Linked DNA regions of Homo sapiens. The protein of the gene in region 2 interacts with the protein of the main gene of each other region in a pairwise test. Each region holds a gene or a part of one and is shown on either strand. Other genes may lie near its edges.

Region 1 (7,033 bases), on a different chromosome or scaffold from region 2:
CAAAATACTGCTTCAGCCCACAGAGCTGAGTCAATAACTCCCTATAAAACATCCGGATGTTACCAAGTGAACTTTTATAAGATTCTGTCTGTTGAGGACCACGGAAACAGACCAATACTTCTTGACTAGACTGAGATGAACTAAAGACAGGATCCAGCTTGCGGTGAGGTTTTTCCTTACTATTAAAGGGTAGTAGTTCATAATTTTTTTTATGAGAAGAAACTTACTGTGAGAGTTCAGCAGTTTCTTCATCATATATTTTTTTTCTCTCAGACAGTTCATCAGGCAGATACTTCACTATTAATTCTTCCAACAGCTGTGTGACACAGTACCTCCTATCTGCTAGATACTAAAAGACAATATTATTTTACATTCCAGCAGTGGTTTTCCTACAGTATAAAACAGGCAACACAGTTAACTGATATATTAAAGCCTTTATTACATACTTATACCATCAATTCTGGATTAATTAGTGAGGGGAACATTACAATGGATGATGCTAAGCAAAAAAACCTGTCTGAGGCTTTGCACAAGAGCAGTAAAGATAGTTGGCTGCAACCTGAACCAAGCCCTGTACAGAAGAACTGCTTCCTGCTGTGACCACAGCTTCTCTATTAGCCGCAGAGGGCCCTGCCCTGCCGTCTTCCACAACAGAGGCCCTTTTCCACCTGACAGCTCATGGGCACTAAACTATCATTTTAACTGAGATACAAAAACGGGATAAGGAATAAATAAAATAACACATTTGCCTTATTTAAGAAAAGCAAAACATCTGTTTTGTTCCCAATTTCAGACACAGTCTCTAGATAAATTTTCTTTCAGATTTTTCTTCCATTGTCACCCACTATTGAGTAGAGGAGCAGACCTCAACTCTGTCCTTGAGTGACCCAAGGAAGGTGCGTTTCTTGGGACACTATCACTCAGACCCTTATCAAGATATTGCTTTTCCTGTATGATCCATCTACCCCAGCTCTATATAAAATCTTACATTTGCGCTGACCCCTAAATACTCTGAAAAAGTACTATCCTCATGCATTTTTGTGTTATTCTCTATTCCAACTTACAAAAGCCATCTCTCTCACTCCTGCTTATGCAAAACATGTCTATCCTTCAAGGTCTGACTCCAATTTTACCTTTTTCACAAACTCTTCCTTAATTATTTTTTTCTCTCCCAAGAACCCATATTTTACTGTTTTTACCACATAGTAGGCATTGTAGCGTGTAGTATATGTACACAGATATATTACATCTCTGTAGTTAAACTAAAAATTGCTTAGGGTAGGGCCAGGGACATGGTCAGGGTGTATGCACAGAACTTTGTACAAAGAAAATGCCCAATACATATTTATTTCATAAAATTAGTGAGGAAAACCTCCTGGGAAACTATCACAAGATGAAGCCATCCTTGAATCTGCAGTCAGTAAAAGCAAGGGTTTTGTCATTATCCAATGAAGAGTAGATGGGGAAATGCGAGAGGTTGGGAAACTGGTGGTGGTTTTCAAAGTTTAGCATGAATCGCGGCTTGTTAAAATACAGACTACTGAGCCCCACGCCAGAGTCTCTGAGCATCTGGGGTAGGGTCCAAGAATCTATGTTTCTAACAAGTTGTCAGGTGACAGATGCTGCTGGTCAGGGGAGCATGGGGAGAGGTGGCCTTGGGCAGGTAGTATATACACAGATAATAAGTGTTTATCACAAAATTAATCAAATTAGCTGTCATAAAAGCAATTCCATTATCATTTTCTATTAAGTTAATAAAGATGTTTAAACATCTAGGGAAATACAGCCACTCTTACATTACTGATAAAAATCTCAATAAATGTAACATTTCTGGGGATGAGGCAATCCAACAATTGGTTTTAAGGGCTTCATAAATATATGGCTTTTGATCCAATAATTCACCTCCCAAAAATTTAACCTAAGGAAATGGTTATTGCCTTATTTAAGAAAAGCAAAACATCTGTTTTGTTCCCAATTTCAGACACAGTCTGTAGATAATTTTTCTTTCAAGTTTTTCTTCCATTGTCACCCACTACTGAGTAGAGGAGCAGACCTCAACTCTGTCCTTCAGTGACAGATATATAATATCTGTCATAATATCTTCGATTACATAAAGATGCATAAAATCATTCATTTTAAATGATGTTGGCAAAAGCATAGTATATAAAAAAGAGAACAAGAAACCTTATATATCCAACAACAAAGAAATGTTAAATCACTGGACTATTATGCTGCTATAAAAACAATGTATCTAAAATAGATGGAAATGGAAAAATGAGCAAAATAAAATGACAAGTAGGAAAAATGTAAAACTGAACAGCATACCAATCTTTTTTAAAGTATATGTATTTTGAATTTACAAATTATATTACGCAGGGTATCTTCAAAGTTGGAAACAGGATATTGCTAAATAGTATGTTAGTTATACTTTCAAAAAATATGCTTAGTATATATTTTTCAATCTCCAGACATTTTTTAAAGAGGGAATATCCCTAATCAAAGCAATAGATCTAATATTATGCCAAAAACCACAATTACTTTTGCACCAACCTAACAGTTAATCTGGAAAAACAAGCATCATAGTTATCCTGGGGGGGTATTTAAATGAAGTCTGGAAAAATAGCATGTTTACAGTACTTCATCTAAAAACATTGAGCATATTAGCTAAAAATGTAACTAACAAACTCTTTTAAGAATAAATGTATCTGATGTTTCCTGACTTTGAGAAAATTCTAAATATGCTTTTGTTTTACATATCAGCTTGTTATATATGTAAGACACATATCAAATGTAATAACAGACATGCTATTATGACATCCGTACTGAGTTGTTTTCTATACAGGAAATACTGTATGTATATTCATAATGGTTTTATGAATTTTTCAATTCATATTTGGAAGATACTTTTTTTTAAGCAATCCTGTCAATCACCAGAGACAGAATCACTTTCCCCAATCAACGCTACAAACTGCAATTGCCTCTCAGAATCACAGGCTTTAGCCTGACAGTAGGTGATCTGCAGTCACTCAAGCATGATTAAGAGGGTGCTCTCTTCTCATCAATTAGAGAAGACATCCACTGAGATCTAGCTACTTTCCTATCACAGGTTATTAGCACTGATCACTGACTCTACAAGAAGGGGAATAGGAAGCTGTACCTCCCTCTCTTCTTTCCAATCTACCACTTTTCTAGAGCTGCATTGCCCAATGTCGCAGCCATTAGTCACATGTGCCTACTTAAATTTAAGTTAATAAAATGTAAATATAGTTCCTCAGTGACACTAACCATATTTAAAAGCTTAACAGGCAAACATGGCTAATGGCTAATATATCTGACAGCAAAGATATGGAACATTTCCATCAATGCAGAAAATTCTATTGAACAAAGTTGTTCTAGATGTTGAGGAAGCTGAAACAGTCCTCACATCTGGCTTATTATTGAGGGTTGGAGGCAGGGCAATAGGGTTTCCCCAGTATAGTCATCACCAAAATTGAACTTATCCCTGACCAGATAACTAACCATACCCACTTTTGTTTAAAAAAAAAAAATTAAGTACAAGGGGGTTGGTCTTCAGCATCTGTCTTCTTTCTCCCCATCCTCTTCAACCTCACTTTTCTCCAACATTAGCATATGGGTAATAAAACATTATCCTTGTTAGTCACTCAGAATATAGAATGTAATTCTGAACGTGATCATCACTATTTCTATGGCTGAACAGAAATTAAACCATGCTGCCAAACTTAAGACCAACAAACAGACACATATACAAATATTTACCTCTTTTAAGCTTTCTTTGCAAAGAGGACAATATGGTGCATGATCTAAACAACGCTCAAGACAATTCTTACAGAACGAATGTCCGCAAGGGGTTGTTACTGGCTCAAAAAACAACCTGAAATCAACCAAGATACATGTTAGTTTTCACATTAAACTATCCACTGAAAAGCTTGTACTACTTTAGAACCATAACACTAATCTCTATTTAAAGGAGGAAGAAGGAGGGCCCAGCAGGCAGGAGAGGAGAGAAAGGGCAGTGATAAGTGTAACCATACCCTCCAGAATGTTTTAAAATTCTCCATCAACAAAGGCCTCCTGCCAAAGGCCTAGAGCCAAGGGCCTAGAGCTGTCCTGACTAACGCAACAGCCCCTGGACACTATGGCTACTAATCACTTGAAATGTGGCTAGTACAAGCTGATATGTGCACTGAATGTAAAATACATACCAGATTTCAAAGACTTTCTGCAAAATAAATAATGTAAAATACATCATTAAAAATCATTAGTTAGCTTTTGTATAGCCTTTAGATTCCCATTTTAATATCAACTTAAAAATGATTCCTTAATAGGTTTATAAGACCCTTATGATATAAAACTCATAAAAAGAATGACCTAATAAATAATGCAGTTGAATCCTAATGTTAGACTTAATACTAAATGTATTATTCAAACATTACAGAACAACTAGTTTTACTTATTTTCTGAAACATGATAGTTTTGAATTTGCTAGAAATAGATTTAGAGGTACTTTAGGGACTGTTTAGTATAATCCCCTCACTTCACAGATGAAGAAACCAAGGCTCAGAATTAAGACTTGCTCAGGAATGTAACTGCTACCAGCCTAGTGTGACCAGCACTAGGCCTCCTGACCCCGTATGAATCTTTTGATCCTACACAATTCATGTAAATGAGAAATGTTATTTCAAAACATTTAGTCTTTTAGAATTATAGCATTCTGAATAATGGAAATCCTTATCCTTATGTTACTTTAAAAAGACTTTATGGTTAATATACATTAATAAGATAGGATCATATACATAAAATACTAATTAGAATTCATACCCAAATTTAAAACCATGGAGATAGGTAAGTTTCAAAAATAATATCATCTATAACTTTCTTAGTACTTTACAATTTCCCAGATTCCTTTTATACTGAAGCCATGTGATTCTCACAACAATGAGATGTAGGCCATGCAAAGCTTGATCCCACTTTCTAAATTAGGAAACCTGAGGTTCAGAGATTCAGTTATTTGCCCAAGGCATGAAAGGTAAACCCAGGACTAAAATTCATGTCTTTTGATTTTTATTCCAGCATTGTGTTACTTTACATTGTCTATTATTACCTTTATCTACACGGTATTTTATGTATACTAACATAAAATATTCATCTTCTATAAAGTTTTATATGCTTACCTCATGCAGAGAGAACACTCGAAATCTGAGACATCGATTAATTCTTCTGGAATATCACCATAAGCTAAGGAAAACATACAGACTTCATTGGGAGTTTCTATTAAAACAAAGACATGGGGTTTTCTTCCTTAGGAAAAACTTTAAAGACTATTCTGACTAAATAAATTTATTTTATATAAGTGTAGAGCAAAATTTTTACCTCCTTGTTTTTTCAGCTTATTTCTTCCATCTTCATTTACAATCACATCCTGTTCTAAAAGAGACAACTTTCTTTTCAGCAGAACACCTTTTTCTTGAACTGACAGAACAGGTTCTGAGGACACTCTTTTTAAACAGTCCTCTCTGGCAGGCATTTCTGTTGAATTTATAGACTGTGCTGACTGAGCACGGTTTAAGCTTCCTTTGACAGGCTCTGAAGTGACCTCTGGTATTTCTTCACTCTACAAAAATACAATAAACAAAGGTAACTGTATTTCTTTACTATCCTTTATTCCTCTCACCAAGAATCAAACTGAAATGAAATTTCAATGCCTTATAATGCTCATTTTAATGTTCATTTAATAGCACTAACTTGATTCCAACACTGTGACAAGTAAATGATTTTTGCCAGCACAGTTGGCCCTCCGTATCCACAGGCTCTGCATCCGTGGGTTCATCCAACTGGGGATAGAAAATATTCTAAAAAAAAGCCTGAACATATATCGACTTTTTTCTTGTCATTATTCCCTAGACAATACAGTATAACAACTATTTACATAGTATTTACATTGTATTAGGTATTATAAGTAACCTAGAGATGATTTAAGTATACAGGAGGATGTGCATAAGTTATATGCAAATACTGTGCCATTTTATTAATATATCAGGGACTTGAGCATCCTTGGATTTGCTATCTGTGAGAGGTCCTGGAACCAATCTCCCACAGATACAAGGGATGACTGTACTTACACAGCCCTAGAAATCAAGGTGACTTATGTTATAATGAGGTTTAAAAGTAGTTATGCTATAACACAGCTGTTACTACCCTGAGGAAACATAAATGCAATGTTCTATACATATTTTTAAAGAACTAAAAGTTTTCTTTCACGGGACCTAAAATTGTGATTCATTAGCAAATATTTTACATAAAAGATTTTAGTGTAAAGTAAAGGCTATGGAAAAAATTCTACTATGATAACTAACCAGGTTAAAAGTACTTAAGTAGGTGCTAGTACTTGAAACTAGGAAAGTGAAGCTCTTAACTCGTAAAGAAATGGATACGCTAAACTCATGATAACCTTGTCTCACCCCGTACCTGCTTTGGGCTAGGTTCATTGAGAGACTGAGACTCTTCCATCACTGAATGAAAATCAAAAGGTCTGTTTTTAGTACATGGTAATGAACTCCAGGAAGATTCCTTCAGGCCTTCTTTTAAGTTTTCAGGTAATAATAAATCACATAAAATCTGTAAGAGAAATATTAAAAGTAGTAGAAAATATAAAATATTTGGTTAAGGATAATTTTGTATAAATTTACCTAATAAAGAATATGTAGAAAGTTTGTAGCAGACATTTTTTTAATGAGCAGGAGGGGAACAAGGTAAGCAACACTGTAAGTTCAAAAGTCTTGCAAAATTAGGTGTGCCTCATGGGGTCAAATCACCCGCAAACAAATGATTCAAAACTTTGAAAGGAAAGCATGGGAGTAGTAAGACTCAGGATAAAGGCTGATCTTTCAACACAAAGACTATAAAAAGATCTTAAAAGACATATTAAATATTTATCTCTGAATCTTAGTGAGCCCTATGCTATCAAAATAGTTCATGGTTCACCTCAATGTATATTTACGAAGTTGGCCTTGGG
Region 2 (7,031 bases):
TTGGGGGCAGAGGTTACAGGGAAAAGAGAGATGGGGGGATCGTCACAGGGTGATGAAATGGAAAGCAAACTTTTCTAGGAACCCTATTTGCAAAAATCGGAGAGTGCCGCTGATTTCAGTTGTCCTACATGTCAGGAGTTTTAAACCTAACTCCTATCTGGACAACAGCATGGAGGGACTGGGAGGCAAAGCCTTGGGAGTCTGACCCGCTGGGCTGCTAGGAATCCCTTTGCTGGGAGACTCCACTGGACAATGTTATTTTAAAGGTATTTTGGGGGTGGGCAGGGAGAAGACAGAGAGAGAAAGAGAGAGAGAGAGAGAGAGAGAGAGAGAGAGAGAGAGACAGGCTGGCCTCCCAGAGCGAACGGAAGAGGACTGAGGACTGAACCCAGGGAGCCCCTAGCACTGGCCATTTGGCAGGAGGCGAGGAAGGGCGAGGGCACCGCGGCTTCCCCCCAAGCCGAGCAGTGGCCACAGCCTGAAGGTGCCACGGGGCGGCTCTGGGATCTTCTTGGCTTTTCTAGGCTCTGGGCTCGGCGAGGCTGCCGGGTTAGCGGGAACCGGCAGGTTGCTGGAGAAAGGAGAGGGACAAAGGCCTGGAAGTGGGGGAGGCACCAGGGACTGGGCGGCCGGGATGGGAGCCTTTGCCTTTAGGGCTCACTGGACCCGTTTGCCAGCTCCGCGGACAAGGGATCCCACCTTCCCAGGGTCTGCAAAAAGAGAGACGTTTGGGGCACTACAAAGTGACGCAGGTGTCTGCCAAGACTTTCCTTCTCCAAAAAATGCCAGTCTTCACCCTTTCCAGCGCGCCGGCGCTGCGCCTCTGCTTGACCGGGGAAAGAGAGAGTTTGGAGGTGTCAGAACTGTCAGAACTCCGGATGGGAGGCTCTTGGTTCTGAAGCTGGGAGCTGGAGGCACTTCCCCCCAGAAGTGGGCACTTCTTTGCCTCCCCGAAGGCCTGATGGGGTGGGCACAGGGGAATGCCAGGGATCGGTGCGGGTGAGATGCTTGCCTCACCTCATGTTGACGCATCAATACTGGCTAGAAGCTCTGGGCAGGCTCTGGCGAGCCACGGTCCCCCAGCGGGACTCCCTCCACGCAGACAGCCCCGCTACCGGGTGGGACGACCCCGGCGGCCCCCGCGGGAACGCACCCGCCGGCCTGAGAGGTCCTCCCTCTGGCCACAGGGGGCGGAGGGTAGGGGGGAACAGGGGCCTGTGGGGAGGCGGGGAAAGGAGACAGAACCTAAAGCGCAATCCCCGCCGCCCCCCCGCGTCTTGGAGGGCAGCAAGTGGGCCTCGGGCGTGTTGGTAGCCGCAATTAAAATGGCGACCTGCGAGTTGTCTCGGTTTTGTACACACCTCTGGCAACCGCGCCCGCACCTCAGTCTCGGCCCCCACACCCCTAGGCCGCTTCGCCCCCAGAGCCGGTACTTGGCAGAGGGAGTGAGGCTCCCCACGAGGTAGAACAGCACCCCCACCTTCCTTGAGACCAGTCCAGAGAGAACGAGGAAATCTCACTCTCACCCCTCTCTCCTTAAACTTTGAAAACTCGGCCTCATTCTGGGGTTGAACTCCCCTCCCCAAATATTGACACATGGGAAGCAGCCAAGTCCTTTTTGTTTTTTGTTTGTGCGGAGGAGTTTCCAGGAGTCTTTCCCGGAGCCCCCTTCCCCACCCAATGACGTCAGTGGCATTCACTCCTCGCTCCTTGCCTTTTCTGATTTTTTGTTAAAACTTTTCTCCGCAGCGAGATGGGGGTTGGAGGGGTGGGAGAAGGAGCTGATTCAAAGAGCCAGTGCCCTGGGGGGAAATAGCAACAAGATTACGGCTGCTTCTTTCCGAGGCAAAGCTTAAGAAGGTGCTAATCCACTCGGTCGCTAATTGAGAGGTTGTAAAAATGATACTCGCCTCCAGTTCGGACAGAATCACTTCCCCCCCCCCCGCCCCCCCGCAAGTCCCTCGCTCATGCACAGCGGACTTGAGTCTTGAGTCCAAGCTTCTTTAATGCTCGCTTGGAAAGTAAAAGGAGAGAGAAAGAGAAAGCCGACTTTCGCTGGTCTGGGACTCAGGGCCGCGGCCCCACTTGCCGGCATCCTCCGAAAGTCGCGCTCCTGCGAAATGAAACCTCGCCCAGGAGGCCGCGGACCTGGACACCCGGCGCCACCTCCTTCACCTCTGACCCAGGTTTCCTCCCGGCGCTGCGAGCTCCCGGGGAAGGGTTAGAGCCGGCAGCCCTCCCCAGCCCGGGGAGGGGAGAGGGTTATGCGACCCCACCTCTGGCTAGGGCCGGGGAGGCCTTTGCTTCCCGGGAGCCCTGCCCGGGCTCCTTGGTCGCAGGGCTGCTGGGTCCCAGGCAGGAACGAGAGGGTGAGGCCCACATGTGGCCCGGCGGCCCAGGGCGGCTTGCAGCGTCCTCACTGTCCCGGCTGCCAGGGGCTGCGGCGACGCGGCCAGTCAGCAGCGAGTTCAGGTCGCGCAGATTTTATTGATGAGCTCTGACTTTCAGCACTTTCCCTAAGTCAAGAAGAGTCTAGCGTACCCTTCGGCTGCTTCATTTCAGCCTCCCTGCCTCAGCTCTTCAGCCCTATTCCCCCTCGCCCTGTCCTGGGGTGTGTACAGCAGCCCAGGCCTTCCTTCTCCTTCCCGGCTCCGTGGCCCGAAGCCGCCGAGAGAGCTCGGGACAGCGCAGGACCAGGCAGCCGCTCGCTCTCCTGTCACCTTAACTGCAGGCTCCGAGGGGCGCCTTTGGAGTGTACTGAGGTGTGTCCTAATCGTGCGGCATTCAACAAATGGACTTCTGGTGTGTGGTCAGAAGAGAAAAGCCATTTACTTACTTTCCTCCCCGGTTTTCTGGCAACAGCTGAAGGGGAGCTGCCTCCGTGGACTGAGCAGACCCAGGAGAGGGAGTCGTGGTGCGGAGACACACGCACCACACACAGATGACCGGTGGCACACACGACACACGCTGACATACCGACATCGCCAGTGGGACACACACACACACACACACACACACACACACACACACAGAGAGAGAGAGAGAATCCCTCCCAGCATTGGTCATCCGCCCCCCCACCCAGGCTTCCACTCCCCCTCCCCTCTTATCTCCCCTGGCTTCCCCTCCTCTCGGGCGCTGCGAAAAGCAGCCGCACTTAGTCAACAAATGGCACGTGGGAGAAGTTGGTGAGTGTTTGGTGAGGACTCTTCAGGGCTTTTCACAAGAACCCTCTGTACACAAAGTAAGTGGCGTGTTTACTCGGGCCTCTCCAGCCAGAGCTGTGCCTCTGCTCCGCTGCGCACCGCGGCTTCCGAAAGGAGAAAGGAGAGAAGAAAGGGCGGGGAGAGCGGGGTGGAGGATTTGGACAGGCCCTGGAGGCTTGGGCTGGGGAGGCCTCTGGCCTCGTTTAGTTCTCGGCCCGGCAACCTCCTCTCGGCCTAGGCTTCGCCGCGGCCTCCGCAGCTGGAATGGAGCTGCCAGGACCCAGTGACGCTCCCGCCCCTTTCCTCTTCTTCCAAGGGGCCAGGTGGGCTGGGGTGCGGCCGCCGCTGTGCTCTGTGTCTTGGGGCCCCGGCTGGGATGGGGTGGGGGCGGGCGGGGGCGGGGCGGCAGGCCACGCTGTCCTGGAGTTGGCAAGAAAGGACAGCACAGAAACTTGCACCCTCCGAGGACTGGGAGTCCCGAGTCCAGCTTAGGGGGAGTGGGGGCGCGACCCCCAACCCAGAAACCTTCACTTGACCGCTCAAGTTCGCGGCAGCAGGGCGGGCCGCGCCGAATCTCGGCGTGCGCGGAGCGGGGAGATGCAGGCGAGCGCCAGAGCCCGGGCTCGGGGGCCCTGCGCCGGGGAGAGGAGCCGGGACCCACCGGCGGAGCCGAAAACAAGTGTATTCATATTCAAACAAACGGACCAATTGCACCAGGCGGGGAGAGGGAGCATCCAATCGGCTGGCGCGAGGCCCCGGCGCTGCTTTGCATAAAGCAATATTTTGTGTGAGAGCGAGCGGTGCATTTGCATGTTGCGGAGTGATTAGTGGGTTTGAAAAGGGAACCGTGGCTCGGCCTCATTTCCCGCTCTGGTTCAGGCGCAGGAGGAAGTGTTTTGCTGGAGGATGATGACAGAGGTCAGGCTTCGCTAATGGGCCAGTGAGGAGCGGTGGAGGCGAGGCCGGGCGCCGGCACACACACATTAACACACTTGAGCCATCACCAATCAGCATAGGTGTGCTGGCTGCAGCCACTTCCCTCACCCACACTCTTTATCTCTCACTCTCCAGCCGCTGACAGCCCATTTTATTGTCAATCTCTGTCTCCTTCCCAGGAATCTGAGAATTGCTCTCACACACCAACCCAGCAACATCCGTGGAGAAAACTCTCACCAGCAACTCCTTTAAAACACCGTCATTTCAAACCATTGTGGTCTTCAAGCAACAACAGCAGCACAAAAAACCCCAACCAAACAAAACTCTTGACAGAAGCTGTGACAACCAGAAAGGATGCCTCATAAAGGTGAGTCCGCTTCTTTCTTCTCGCTTTATTTTTATTGCAATATTCAGACAGGTCTCCCCCTTCCTCCCCCCTTCCTTCCTCCCCTCTCGCCGGTCCCCTCCCCCACTGCTACGCCGGGAGAGTTGGGCCGGAGAAGTTTCCACGCAGGAGCCCAAACTTTCTACTTCCAGCGAAAGCCCGCGTCGGAGGGCGACTGCCGGCGAGCGGGAGCGGCGCAGGGCTCGGGGCGGGCGGCCAGCTCAGCCCCAGCGCCAGCGCCAGCGCCAGCGCGGGCTGAGCTCGCGGGAAGAAGGGAGACTCCAGGCGCGACAGCAGCCGCGGCTCCTAGCCCCAGCGTCGCCCAATGCTCCCGACCCGCGGGAAAAGACGAAGAGGCTCTGTGGTGCCCAAGGCCCTGGAACGGCCGCAGAGAGCAACCGCTGCCGGCTGCTTTGTCCAGCCCGAGGCCCAGCGAACGCGCAGAGAGCGGGCGCTCCGAGGACTCGCCGAGGGAGCGCCGAGGGAACCTGCTCGCCGCGTCTCCGCCCGCCCGCCGGCCCTCGGGCTTTGTGCCGCACTGGGCTCCGGCGCAGAAGAGTCAGCCGGCACTCGAGCGCCGAGGGGGGCACCGCGCCCGCCACCAGCCCGAGTGGAGTCAGTCGGCAAGGCAGCCGCACGCTGGAGGTAGAGGGAAGAGCGAGCTAGCGCGAGCCGGGAAGGAAGCCACCAGGCCAAGGCGGTGGAACGCGCGCTCCGAGGGAGCTCAGAGCCGAGCGGGAGGACTGTCAGCTTCCACCCAGCCCCCGGGCTCTTGCCCCCAACTCCACTGGAGCGCTGAGCTCGGAACTTGAAAACTCTCTGCTCCCCAGGCTTCCCCCGACTCTCATCTCCCTTGCCTTGCGGAGGCTGGGGCTCTTCCCTGTTCTCCGGCCCCCTGCGCTTGGTGGGTATTTTTCCTTGTTTTCCTCTGATCCAGTCTCACCAGGTGTTGGGATTTCAGCAAGTTTTGAGGTGCAGAGTTGGTTTGCTTTTTTGTTTGTTTTACTCCGAATCCCCTTATGTTTTTCTTGGTAAGGCCTTGAAAATAAATCTGTATGAAAGCATTGGCCTTCCCCCTCGTCTGATCACTTCTTCTCCCGGCTAATTAGTCGGAGTAATTTGAGAGCTTTCGATTCTAAGATCCCAGGAGGAAAAGTGTCTTTTCAAAGTTCATAAAGTTGTTGCCTCTTTCCTTGTGCAGATTTTCTCAGTCTCCCTGCGCCATAATAGCCCTGAATTTTAGCAAGTGTAATTGGGGGAAATGGAGTTGAATTTCAAGTGGAAATGCTTTCTTTTTCGAGTGCTAAAACCTGGCTCTTCATTCATGAGCGATTTCTAGAAAGTTTAAAAACAAAGTGAACGTGGTTTCTTTCTTTCTTCCTTTTTATTTTTCTTATACTCTCCCAAGCTCCCTAAGCCATTCTGGACGTTTAACTCGAACTTGGGAAGGTTTTAGAAGGGGCTGGGAGCAGAAAATGAAATGAAAGGCAAAGAGCTTGAGCCTGGCGAGTTTACTGAAGAGAAATAATAGTTGTTGCGGTTGACATTACATTTTTTATAGCCAGTGACCTTTGCAAAAGCGTGAAGGCAGTTTGATTAGTTGTTATCTTATTTGGCCCTAGAGAGTAAAACTTTGTCATCATAATTGCTAATTACTCTTTTGGCTGGGGGCGGGAGGACCGAGAGCTCTCCCCTTTACCTCAGTTAAAGAGTTTGGGGATGGAATTTGAGAATTAAGTAATTAAAAAAAGAACAGCATTTGAAAACTGAGGCTTGTGTTGGGGACAGAGAGGTGGGGGCAGTGACCACTCTCTTGTGGTCCAAGGCTGGGGCGACTCCAAAATGTCTGGAGACTCCTTCGTTCAGGATGTGGTTCTATGGCCCCAGCGAGGCCGTACAGAGCCTCGGGCTGAGCTGGGGGGCTGAGGCTGCAGTTGGGGGTCTGACCTCTCCGGTGCACAGGACTGCTTCCGGGTGTCGATGTGCCCCACTTCCCGGGTTGCTTCTGCACTTAGTGTTCACGTTTACTTAAGTAATTAGATAGCTTCTTAGCGAGAGGGAAGTGGGAATGGAGCAGAACTGGAATTTGAAATACTACCACCTTCCCAGCTGCTTCGAAAACTAATCAACGAGGCCTCTTTGTGCTCAGCTACTGAATTTAAAAAAAAATGGTATCAAGAAGTTACAAGCCAGGATGGGAGCATTCTGTTGTGATTGTGCACAGCGTGGGTTACAAAGTGGAGTTCTGGAAGTTTTACCCCTCCTAGGGGAATTCCATTCCCCATCTCCCCACCTACTACTCCTTTGCAGCTTCAGGGTCCTGCATTTGTTGGGGTGGGGTATTTTGCATTAGAGTTGGAGATTTTGCCTATCCAGGGCATGGCTATGGGTGCCGGGACTGAGAGACAGGAAGGAAGCATTGGAGAGCCAACCTAGATAAGGGTAACTAGTAACCCTCTGCTGTGGCCAGTATTTACCCAATGCTGAGAAAAAGTCCTCATTTTCGG
Region 3 (4,708 bases), on a different chromosome or scaffold from region 2:
GTGGCTGCCTGAAACCACAGGAGTATCAAGCCCCATACAATTTTTCCTGTACCTGCCTATAAAACTTAATTTCCAAATTAAGCACAGTAAGAGATTAACGGTATAGGATAATTTTGACTATTGTATACTATAACTATACATTCACACATTTAACATACAGTATAGGTGTGAATGTAGTCTCAAAGTATCTGAATTGTAGTTGACCACATGTAGCTGAAGCTGCAGATAACAGGACCCACTGTACTCAATTTTCTTCCTAGTGAAAAGTCCTTTTGAGACTTCAGAATGAAAATGCTATACTCACCCTCTCAGAAACTGTTTACTCAGAAACTGTATCCAAGTAAGATATTTGAATTTGTCCTTTACTCGGACACCGACCAGCTCAAAGCTTTCTAAACCAATGTCATACCATTAGCGCTAACCCACGCTTCCCCAGTCACTAACGATGTGAAGACAAAAAACTAGAACAATTTCTGAATCCAATAGCAAGTAACATTTCTCTATAAAACAAGGAGAATGACCCCAGTCCAAAAAAAATCTTTATGTTCCTTTATTGGAGCAAGATTCCTGATCGGTATACAGTGATGTATTTACTAAACAGAGACCTGTGCAGAAATTACATACTATCCATCTAGATAGGTTGTTACACTTTTGCCTATTGATGGAATAGTTCCATTTATCAAGTTTTATACATCAAAAAGCTTTTGAAGTTCACCAGACTGTCCATTAATTCACCTCTGAAAAAGTGGCATTTAATTTCAGCGACTATATTTTACAGCATTAAAAAGCTTATGCATTAGGGTGCTTCTCTGCACAATGGCATTGAGCAGACAGAGCTGAGTCCATTATCCCACCCAGATTCACATGGTCACATTTGAGAGCTTTATACCAGAAAGCAGGGACAGTTACTGCTCACCATCAGACTTCTTACTGAGAGCCTATCTTCTTGGCCACATTTTATATAGCCAATGAAGACATGCCAGCAACTGTCCCGTGTATAACTTGGCATTAGAGCACCAGGTCTGTTGGATGGTGGTGGCAGGCACAATTAATTTATATCCAGGTAAAAGGCCAATTTTAAAAACTGCCACTTGGAGATAAAAATCAAGGGCACAATGTACTCAGAGAGTATTGAGCTATCTGGTATCCCAAATGATGTGAATACTTTCAGAAACCAATGGCAAATTGAACCCACGTTTCCCAGCTATGGAGATATTAATACATTGATTCAAATCCCATTACTCAATCCACATAGCCCTGAGGTCATCCTGCAAAGTGCGTATCAAAAAATACGAAGTTAGGGTGACAAAGTTTGACAGTGATGTTATACAAGTCAAACTTGGAAGGTCATAGTAAGCATACCTATGCTGAGAGAAAAGCATCAAATCCTTTGTGTACACATTTAGTTTTATTGTAACAAAGCAACTTGTACACTTTTAACGTTTAAAACTGAGCATCATCTTTCCTTTCCAGTGAAACAAAAAGAAAATTTAAAAATAAACAGGAACAAAATTACAATAGAGAATGTCAATTCCAAATAAGATCCTACAGGTTCTGCTGATTCTCCCATTGAGTGGCAGGGCTCAAGTCATCATTAGGAGAGAATTTATTTTAAAAGTGTCATCTTAAACTGCAAGGATGTCTGTCAAATATCACAATTAAACATGCCAAAGGAGAAGCCATGTTGTCAAAATGCCCACTTAACCCACCCAAACATCTCAAACCCACCCTTTGCTGACCTTCTATAACCCCATTTTTTTAAGTTTTTTTTTCTTTTTTTAAACAAGAGAAAGTAGACAGATACATGTTGGTAAATGCTAACTGTCCATATTCACATAGAGACACAGTGTACTCTCTGAGCCCAATATACAGAGAAAGGAGGAAAAAAGCTAGAATTCTATGCACTACTACACAGGGGCCTAGCACCCTCCAGCTTCCAGCAGAGCGAAGGGAGCAGGTTTTTCTTTTTTCCCACAGAGCTCGGTGGTGTTGATTCCATACAGTTTTTGTTCAGACAGGAAGGGATAAAAATGAACTTCGAACAGAAAGGGGTAGAGACTCTTTTCCCATTGTATTCTGCTCAAGGTATTTCCCCCCAAATAAATTGAGAACCATGGAGTAGAGAAAAGAGACCTCAAGAACAGGGCGACTGAGCACAAGAGGGAAAAAAAAAAAAAAAAAAAAAAAAGACTGCAACTTGCTCCCAGGGACTGGAGAAAATTTAAAAAAAGGAAGGTTGGAATCCATCAGTGTTCTATTTAGTCATCTTCTCCTTCATCCTCCTGAAAGAAAAAGTGGGCAGTTAATCTTCAGGATTAATGCTGAGACTTGCTTTCATATGGACCACAATGGACCCCACGAGTGCCCCTGGGGGCACTCCAGTTTCTAAACCTGTAAGTCAGCTGCATCGAAGGAAACACCCGTGATGATGTTGCTTCAGATTAATTAGTAACTTCAGTTCTAACCAAATCAGGTATATTTCGGATCAAATAATCCGAAATAAAACCAACCTATCCTAATTTGACTATTCAGAAATTGTGCAGTTTGTCGAAAATACATGAAACTTTGTTATTTCAGAGATGTCAGAATTTGACCAGCTACACTGCCTATATTGCCTAAGTACTGGCTAGGGAAAAACAAGCTTGGGTGGTGATAAGTCTAACCAAAAAAACCCAAAAAAAAACCAAAAAAAACCTAGTTAAACATTAGTACCATGTGCTTATCAAACATTTCCTTAATTCTTGAACAACAAAATGGCTTACTTTTTTTCCACAATCAGTTCTGGTCAGTTCTACCACACTATATATATATATATACACCCCAAAATAACATGAATTCTTTAAAAGTTATCTTTGTGGGTTTAGCCAAATTTTCTTTTACCTCTCCTTCCTCCCCTTCATCATCATCTTCATCTTCTTCACCTTCATCCTCATCCCCTTCTTCGTCAATATCTTCTAATCCTTCCTCCTCTTCATCATCATCATCATCTTCTTCTCCTTCTCCTTCTTCATCATCCATATCGGGAACCTTAAAAAAAAAAAAGCACAATATAAGGACTCATTTTTAAACAACCGAGACAAGTCCAACCTTGAATAAATGAGTATTAGAACTCACCAAGTAGTACTGTAATGGGTTTGGCCAAATATCATCTTTGATGACCTCTCCTAACTCATCAGCACCTGCATCAGAATGGTCAGTAAACCAGGTAAAGAAGCTCTCTGGTTCCTCATGCTGCCTCTTCCTGCTGGCTTTATTCTGCGTTTGACTCGAACGTTTCGTCAAATCCTAAATGAATACCGGAAGAGCTTTTGATACAATCTCTCCATAACACCCAAACTCCCTATAATTTAAAAAATAAGATTTTCCCCAAAAGCTAAGCAAAACAAATATCAGTATACTATCTACGCTACCATTATTACCTAAGAGCAATTATAAAACTGTGCAGCAGGTAGAGGTAGTATCAACTACATTTGGTTTTCCATAAAATTAGTTCCACTGTTAACAGCCACTAGCACAACACAGTATAAATATCTAAACTATGTCTTACTACCTAAATACGGATGTAAATGATTTTGAGAAATGGCAAGCCATTTGAAGAGCTCAGTCACCACTGCAGAAAACAACAGCAACAAAAAATTTAGTCCAGTTCTCAATTCTTAAACTTGGGCTAGATTTTTCTCTTTTTTTTTGTTTTTTGGAAGGTAAGGGTCTATGTTGCCCAGGGTAAACTCCTAGGCTCAAGAGATCTTCCTGCCTACATCTGTAGTATCTAATGAGAACCCTAAACTACTGTAATACTTGGCTTCAGCACACTGGAACGTTTTATATTTTAAGGTTTTGTATTTAGCCACATGACCAAAGTATCAAGCACTTGTAAGTGGTTAAAACTAAACTGAAATAGGCAAAATGCTATTTTTGTCAAATAATTCCTCAAAACATACCTTTCCAGATTTCCATTTGATTTCGGTGGACTTCGAAGATGGATCACCACTCTCATTCAGATGAAATTCTTTGGAGAGAACTTTATTTTCAAAGTAAGGATTTTCATCAAAATACTGTAATAAATAATTGAAAGATTAGAAATATGAACAGGTCTTCCAACCAAAGCTCACATTAATTTCCACAGTGGCAAACAAGATTAAGTTAGAGATACTTACAAAATCTATTCTGTAACCTGATTTAATATCTTCAAATTCTGTCACTTCAACTCTGGTCAAATAATGCAGTGCCTCTTCATCTTCCTCCCCAAGCAGTGCAGACACTAGGCCAGAAAATTACAGGTCAGCTGAATTTTCAACAGGCACACACTAACAACAATTTAAGTGATCCCTTTAAAATTTTTCCGAACTTAGTGAGCATCTTTGGTTTTATAAACCCATTATTAACTAAAGGCAATTGCTCAATATCAGACTGTCACTATCTTTCATCAAGCAATTAGAATATAGCTTCTCCTAAACAGAATAGAAAGCAGTAGCTGTATATCTTTTCCCGTCTTTGAGGTTTTTTTTTTTTTTTTTTTTTTTTTGAAACAGTCTCACTCTTGTCGCCCAGGCTGGAATGCAAAAGCGCACAATCTCGGCTCACTGCAACCTCCCCCTCCTGGGTTCAAGCGATTCTCCTGCCTCAGCCTCCCAAGTAGCGAGTAGCTGGGATTACAAGCGCGCGCCACCACGCCCAGCTAATTTTTTTTGTATTTTTAGTAGAGACG
Region 4 (7,288 bases), on a different chromosome or scaffold from region 2:
CGTGGTGGCTCACGCTTGCAATCACAGCACTTTGGGAGGCTGAGGCGGGTGGATCACAAGTTGAGGAGTTTGAGACCAGCCGGCCAACATGGTGAAACCCCGTCTCCACTAAAAATACAAAGAATTAGCTGGGTGTAGTGGCGGGTACCTGTAATCCCAGCTACTCGAGAGGCTGAGGCAGGAGAATCGCTTGAACTTGGGAGGCGGAGGCTGCAGTGAGCCGAGATTGTGCCACTGCACTCCAGCCCAGGTGGCGGAGTGAGACTCCATCTCAAAAAAAAAAAAAAAAAAAAAAGGCGTAGCAAGGGAACAGGATGCAGGTGGTAGAAATTGAGTAAACTTATTGACTTTTTAAAATTAAAGACTATAACTGAAATGTTGATCTAAAGAAAATTAGGTATGACTAAGCAACTGAATAAATAATAATACTAAAGTGATCCCAACTATTGGAGCTTTTAGAAGACTATGTTCTACTTGGTTGCTTTTCTATAATGTAAGAGGAATACATAGAATATGAAATTGTTGCTTTTGGAAAATATACTTTTAAGATTATCTCAATGAAGAACTGATTTCTCCTGTAGCCTGGTTTTACTAATTTATAAGCAAAATGACTAAAGCTCAGGTATACTATGAAGTTAATTCTTTAATATTTCCCCTGCTAGGAACTCTGTATAGCTTCTGCAGACATGGGGTTTGATGATGTGATATAAGTAGATGTTTATATTTTACAATCCATGAAGGTAGTCTATACTGTGCTCTTAGAACAGCAGCCATCTAATGTCATTCTTAGTTGACAGGTAAACAGTATGTTACGTATGTAATGAGGTTCCACAAAGACAATAGTGTTTTGGAACACTGCAGAGGCAATAATTTGCATATTACCATCATTTTATAGTTATGAATCAGTGACTGTGATGTGTTTCCATTACCCCTATTTTTGAACAGGCGTTCTGTTAAAAGTATTCTATTCCTTTCTTAGATATGGGATGTTTAGGGGAGAGGGGACACATTACTTGTTTTCTTAGTTACAAGTCTCCATGTTGAGAGGAGTTACACTCAAGGATCTTCATCCACATGCACATCTGGTACAGATGACAAGATCCTGGACTTTAAGCCAATGATATGAGACAAAGCATTTTGGGGAGGGATGTAATTTGTTGTGGTCAGAGGGTGGCAAGAGAAACAAGTGACGGTGAAAAAATTCTGGCCTCGTGATTTTTCAGTAATAATTAAGAGCACAATATTACAACTGCAAGGGTGAAGGTATGTGGGCTGAGGGAAAGGGATAGTTTTGGAGGGTGCTATATTGAAGGCCCAGAAGAAGTAAACAAACTTGGAAAAAATTTACTCCACATTGCTAATGACAGCCTGTACTCTGTTTCTATAGCTTTACAACATTGATTATACAAGACAATGCAAAGGAGTTGAAATTAGATTTTTTTTTTTTTTTTTTTTTTTGAGACAGAGTCTCATTTTGTCATCCAGGCTGGAGTGCAGTGGTGTGATCATGGCTCAGTGAAGCCTTGATCTGGGCTCAAGTGATCCTCCTGCTTCAGCCTCCTGAGTAGCTGGGACTATAGGTGCGTGCTACCACCCCTGGACTCAAAATTCGATTTCAAAGATGGCATAAGCGTATTGATAGTGAAATGAGGAACGTGGTTTATTACTGTGGGAAAAGCTTGAGTTTAATGTAAGACAGACTTGGTTTAAAATTTATATTCTGCCACTTACTGATGTGTGAACTTGGGCAAGCTATTTAATACCAGCTGGATGGTCTCATAAATATTTTTATTTTTTATATATTGTTTTGGGAGTATGTCACAAATGTATTTTTTAGAATCCTTCAACTGTCAGTGGCTAGCTCTAATGTGAAAGGAGGTTAGCCTAGAATTTTCTCTGAGTGCCCGCCCTTCTGATGTTAAAAGTCTGAAGCCTACTTAGTAATAATGAGGTTTCAGCCCTTTTGCCTCTAGAGAGAATGAGCGACAGATAATGACAAATGAAAATAGCACTTTAGCTACATGGGAACATAATTTGTGTTCTTACTCCAAAAGCAATTTATGATCATTTTTAAAAATTAAGACTTTTTAAGAGCAGTTTTAGGTTCAAAGCAAAATTGAAACAAAGGTACAGAGATTTCCCATATACCCTCTGCCCCAACACAAGCATAGTCTTCTCTGTTATCAACATCCTCAATCAAAGTGGTACAATTTGTTGTAACTGATGAACTTACCTCATCAATTATTACCCAAAGTCCAATTACCACCCAAATTCCTCCTCATCTTTTCATGGCCTGATCTTTTTTTTTGAGACACAGTCTTGCTCTGTCACCCAGGTTGGAGTGCCATGGTGCCCTCTCAGCTCACTGCAAACTCCGCCTCCCAGGTTCAAGCAATTCTCCTGCCTCAGCCTCCTGAGTAGCTGGAATTACAGGCGTGAGCCACCGCGCCCAGCCAGCTCATTTCTTTTTAGCACTAAATAATGTCTATTGTCTGTATGTATCACAGTTTATTTATTCATTTACCTACTGAAGGACATATTGGTTGCTTCCAAGTTTGGGCAGTTATGAATAAAGCTGCTATAAACAACCATGTGCAAGTTTTTGTGTAGATAAGTTTTCAGCTCCTTTGGGTAGATACCAAGGAGTATAATTGCTAAATCATATGGTAAGAGGATGTTTAGTTTTGTGAGAAACTGCTAAACTCTTCCAAAGTGGCTGTACCATTTTGCATTCCTACCAGCAATGAATGACAGTTCCTGACCCACATCCTCACCAGCATTTGGTTTTGCCAGTGTTCTGGATTTTGGCCATTTTAATAGGTGTGCAGTGGTTGTATGTGTTTTAGAATGGAACAGAAAACACAAGATTGGCTTTGATATTTTGCAAGATAGAAATTCCATTCTGAACAACTGACTTACTGTTTATGCTTGAATCTTTTTTTGTTTTTTTTTTTTTTGGAGACAGAGTCTTGCTCTGTCACCCAGGCTGGAGTGCAGTGGCGTAATATCGACTCATCGCAACCTCCGCCTCCCAGGTTCAAGCGATTCTCATGCCTCAGCCTCCTTAGTAGCTGGGATTACAGGCATGCACCACCACGCCCAGTTCATTTTTGTATTTTTTAGTAGAGATGGGTTTTGCCATGTTGGCCAGGCTGGTCGTGAACTCCTGACCTCCGGTTATCTGCCCGCCTCAGCCTCCCAAAAGTGCTGGGATTACAGGTATGAGCCACCATGCCCGGCCTATGCTTGACTCTTTTATTAGTTGGAGCTGTTAATATTAATAACTTCACCAGGTCAGACAGGTTGAGTGGTAAGTTTGCTGATAGGTTTGATGGCTGCTTCTGAGACCCAGACCCAAAATCTAGGTTTAGCTACGTTAAGAAGGCAACCACTACAGATAAGTGTCCAATCATGAGATCTCTTAAAACAATGATGGAGTCCAACCCTGTTAGGAAAATCCTTTTGCTAGACAGAGAATCTCAGATCTCTTTCCTCCTGGTCATTATGTCTTGGGCTAAAAGGAGGACATTTAACATTTATTGTATGCCAAACAGTGCTAGGCCATTCCGCATGTTATCTTATTTAATCCTCATAATTTATCTATGAAATATTTTCTGTTGTCCCCATTTATAATTCCAAGTTGTTTTTTTTTAACCTTCCCAGACTTTATATCTGCTACCTCTCCGCCTAGAATAGTGTTATGCCTCCTTTTTGCATAATGAATGCCTACTTATTCCTCAGAGCTCATGTCAGATGGTACTATTTTAAGGAAGCCTTCCCAGTCCCCTAGGTTTGTTTCCCTATTAAACTGATCAAAGGCTTGATTCCCTGTTACACTTCACTGATCAAAGTGCACTGATCTCAATAGCACAAATAACAATGCGATTACTCATTTAATATCTGTCATTTCTGCTGAAGTGTAAGCTTCATGAGCACAGTAACTGTGCCTGTATCATTTTTCTATGTTACTTGTAGTGCCAACTATAGTTCCTTGTTCAGTAAGTAATTATTATATGATTATGGCAAATAAATTCCATAAACAGAAGTTGAACGCTGGTCCACTGTAACTTCAAAACCTTCCTTCAAATTATACCATGTGCAGGACCTAAGAAGTCGAGGAAGTATTTCTTAATAAAATTACTCCAGAGGCTCTTCCTGAACTCTATTTCAGTTCTAGGTTGGCTACCTAACGATAAAAGTTAAGCATTAATTTTATGTGGTTAGGGTGTGGTCTGAGATAGAGAACCTAAAGTCTTTAAAGTCTCCCCAGTTCCAAGTAGGTAATCCTTCTGAGAAGTCCCACCTTTCTGAGCAGCTGTGTTTGAAGAAAGCTAGTGGGAAAAGTTCCAGGATTACATGTCAGGAAACTACAAGAGGTAGAAACATTTGTTGATTTACCAGTGTTTTTAACTTCCTGCTGGGCTGAAAACTGCTTGTTTCGTGGAAAAGCAAAACTTGACAGCAAACATCTAAAATGAAGAGCTCCCAAACTTTTGAGGAACAAACGGAATGCATTGTGAACACTCTACTCATGGACTTCTTGAGCCCAACATTGCAGGTTGCCAGCCGGAACCTATGCTGTGTAGATGAAGTAGATTCAGGTAAGGTTCCTGCCCTAGGCGGTGATTGCAGGTCAATAAGAGTATGTTTTCAGCCGGGCGCAGTGACTGATTCCCGTAATCCCAGCACTTTGGGAGGCCAAGGTGGGTGGATCACCTGAAGTCAGGGGTTTGAGATCCGCCTGGCCAACGTGGTGAAACCCCATCTCTACTAAAAGTAGAAAAATTAGCCAGGTGTGGTGGCTCATGCCTGCAGTCCCAGCTACATGGGAGACTGAGGCATGAGAATTGCTTGAACCTGGGAGGCGGAGGTTGCAGTGAGCTGAGATCACGCCACTGCACTCCAGTCTGGGCGACAGAGACTCGGTCTCAAAAAAAAAAAAACAGTATATTTTATTTATTTCCTTTAAGTTTCAAAAGGCAAACTCTAAGCTTTCAGTAACACCTAAAGCGAAAGAGGTTCTCAATGAAGGGAAACTTTCTGACTATTGGTGTTGACAGAACATTTAAGCTCTTGGGAGATCATGATATGAAAATTATTTAAAAGACAAGACAAATTTTTCTCATTGCCCAGATTCCTGGGACTTGCCATTGCTTCAAGCATTGTAACAAATGTGTTCCCTCTGTCATAGGAGAGCCTTGTTCTTTTGATGTGGCTATCATTGCTGGTCGCCTTCGGATGTTGGGTGACCAGTTCAACGGAGAATTGGAAGCTTCTGCCAAAAACGTCATTGCAGAAACCATTAAGGGACAGGTCAAGTTTCTACTTCATGCTATTGTTTGCTGCTTTTTTTTCTATTTCAAACTTCCTTTTCTTACTACTCCCATACTACAGTGACTAGGAATGTTCTATGAAAATATTTGGGTGCTTATATTTCAAGGAAGTATAGCAAGAATTCTCCAATTGCTAAAACCTAAGTGGTACAGAGATGGAAAATTTTGGGCATAGGCTGATGAACCTTCAGTTTGTCTCTACTTGGTCTTCATCACAGCTGTTGTGCTTAGTGTGCACAGAGCACATTTATAACACTTTATTCTTGGCAAAGTATAGTATCTTTTTTTTTTTTTTTTTTTTCAGACAGGGTCTTACTGTGTCACCCAGGCTCAAGTGCAGTGGTGTGATCTCAGCTCACTGCAGCCTCCACCTCCTGGGCTCAAGCGATCCTCCCACTGCAGCCTCCTGAGTAGCTGGGACTTCAGGCAAGTGCTACCATGCCCATCTATTTTTTTTATTTTTTTATTTTTAGTAAAGATGGGTTTTTGCCATGTTGCCCGGGCTGGTCTTGAATGCCTAAGCTCAGGTGATCCACTCACCTCGGCCTCCCAAAGTGCTGGGATTATAGGCGTGAGCTACCACACCCAGCCTATGCTTTTTTTTTTTGAGATGGAGTCTCACTCTGTCACACCCAGGCTGGAGTGCAGTGGCGCGATCTCGGCTCACTGCAACCTCCACCCACCGGGTTCAAGCAATTCTCCTGCCTCAGCCTCCCAAGTACCTGGGACTACAGGGGTGAGCCACCGCGCCTGGCCCATCTGGGCGGATCACCTGAGGTCAGGAGTTCCAGACCAGCATGGCCAAAATGGTGAAACCCCGTCTCTACCTAAAAATACAAAAATTAGCCGGGCGGATCACTTGATGTGAGGAGTTCAACACCAGCCTGGCCAACATGGAGAATCCCTGTCTCTACCAAAAATACAAAACTTAGCTGGGTGTGATGGCCCATGCCTGTAATCCCAGCTACTTGAGAGACTGAGGCAGGAGAATCGCTTGAACCCGGGAGGTGGAGGTTGCAGCGAGCCAAGATCACACCACTGTTCTCCAGCCTTGGCGACAGAGCAAGACTCTGTCTCAAAAAAAGAACCACCCTCTTAACCGTTATGCTTTATTCGTCCTACTATACACAGCTTGGGCAGTGTGCCTACACTATGTTCAGGCAGAGCTGGACCTGTTACTCCCAGTTGCTTGCCCTGAGGCTGTCCTAGGTAGTTGATAGCTGAGTTGACTTTTTTTCTCATTAAACATATTTTTTTTTTTGGCTGGGTGCTGTGGCTCATGCCTGTAATCCCAGCACTTTGGGAGGCCGAGAGGGGCGGACTGCTTGAGGCCAGGAGTTTGAGACCAGCCTGGCCAACATAGTGAAACCCCATCTCTACTAATAATACAAAAATTAGTTGGGCATGGTGGCACACACCTGTAATCCCAGCTACTCGGGAGGCTGAGGTAGGAGAATTGCTTGAACCCAGGAGGCAGAAGGAGGTTGCAGTGAACTGAGATCTCGCCACTGCACTCCAACCTGGGCAACAGAGCGAGACCCTCTCTCAAAATAAATAAATAAATACAAATACAAAAATTAGCCAGGCATGGTGGCACACAACTGTAATCCTAGCTACCTGGGAGGCTGAGACAGGAGAATTGCTTGACAGGGAGGGGGAGTTTGCAGTGAGCCGAGATGGTGCCATTGTACTCCAATCTGGGCGACAGAGCAAGACTCTGTCTCCAAAAAAAAAACATAAATAAATAAATAAATAATTTGACTTGAACTTGTTTTAATAAAAAAAAATATATTTTGAAACAGCCCTAAACTCAGGGAAAGGTTGCAAGGATAGTACAAATAATTTCTCTCTTGAATCATTTGACAGTAAGGAGTTGACATATTTCATCAACCCCTAATACTTTTATACTTCCCTCAAACAAGAACATTCTGTAATGTAACCACAATCTAACCATC

What was found.
Region 1: the proteins of PAX6 (region 2) and LONRF1 interact in binary tests that used the Homo sapiens proteins (3 or more experiments, as listed by UniProt).
Region 3: the proteins of PAX6 (region 2) and SET interact in binary tests that used the Homo sapiens proteins (3 or more experiments, as listed by UniProt).
Region 4: the proteins of PAX6 (region 2) and BCL2L15 interact in binary tests that used the Homo sapiens proteins (3 or more experiments, as listed by UniProt).

Annotation. Positions count from the first base shown.
Region 1 is NC_000008.11:12,731,509-12,738,541, forward strand, and holds part of LONRF1 (LON peptidase N-terminal domain and RING finger protein 1), read right to left. Parts: intron 6,637-7,033; coding exon 6,487-6,636; intron 5,853-6,486; coding exon of another isoform or gene 5,764-5,852; intron 5,633-5,763; coding exon 5,392-5,632; intron 5,290-5,391; coding exon 5,193-5,289; intron 3,893-5,192; coding exon 3,778-3,892; intron 350-3,777; coding exon 228-349; intron 1-227.
Region 2 is NC_000011.10:31,808,303-31,815,333, reverse strand, and holds the start of PAX6 (paired box protein Pax-6), read left to right. Parts: upstream 1-4,011; 5' UTR 4,012-4,219; exon of another isoform or gene 4,220-4,318; 5' UTR 4,319-4,493; coding exon of another isoform or gene 4,494-4,506; intron 4,507-5,374; exon of another isoform or gene 5,375-5,428; intron 5,429-7,031. UniProt on the Homo sapiens protein: Transcription factor with important functions in the development of the eye, nose, central nervous system and pancreas. Required for the differentiation of pancreatic islet alpha cells.
Region 3 is NC_000009.12:128,692,215-128,696,922, reverse strand, and holds the end of SET (protein SET), read right to left. Parts: intron 4,262-4,708; coding exon 4,158-4,261; intron 4,056-4,157; coding exon 3,942-4,055; intron 3,286-3,941; coding exon 3,115-3,285; intron 3,028-3,114; coding exon 2,881-3,027; intron 2,283-2,880; coding exon 2,259-2,282; 3' UTR 527-2,258; downstream 1-526. UniProt on the Homo sapiens protein: Multitasking protein, involved in apoptosis, transcription, nucleosome assembly and histone chaperoning. Isoform 2 anti-apoptotic activity is mediated by inhibition of the GZMA-activated DNase, NME1.
Region 4 is NC_000001.11:113,884,562-113,891,849, reverse strand, and holds the start of BCL2L15 (bcl-2-like protein 15), read left to right. Parts: upstream 1-4,268; 5' UTR 4,269-4,474; coding exon 4,475-4,601; intron 4,602-5,191; coding exon 5,192-5,313; intron 5,314-7,288.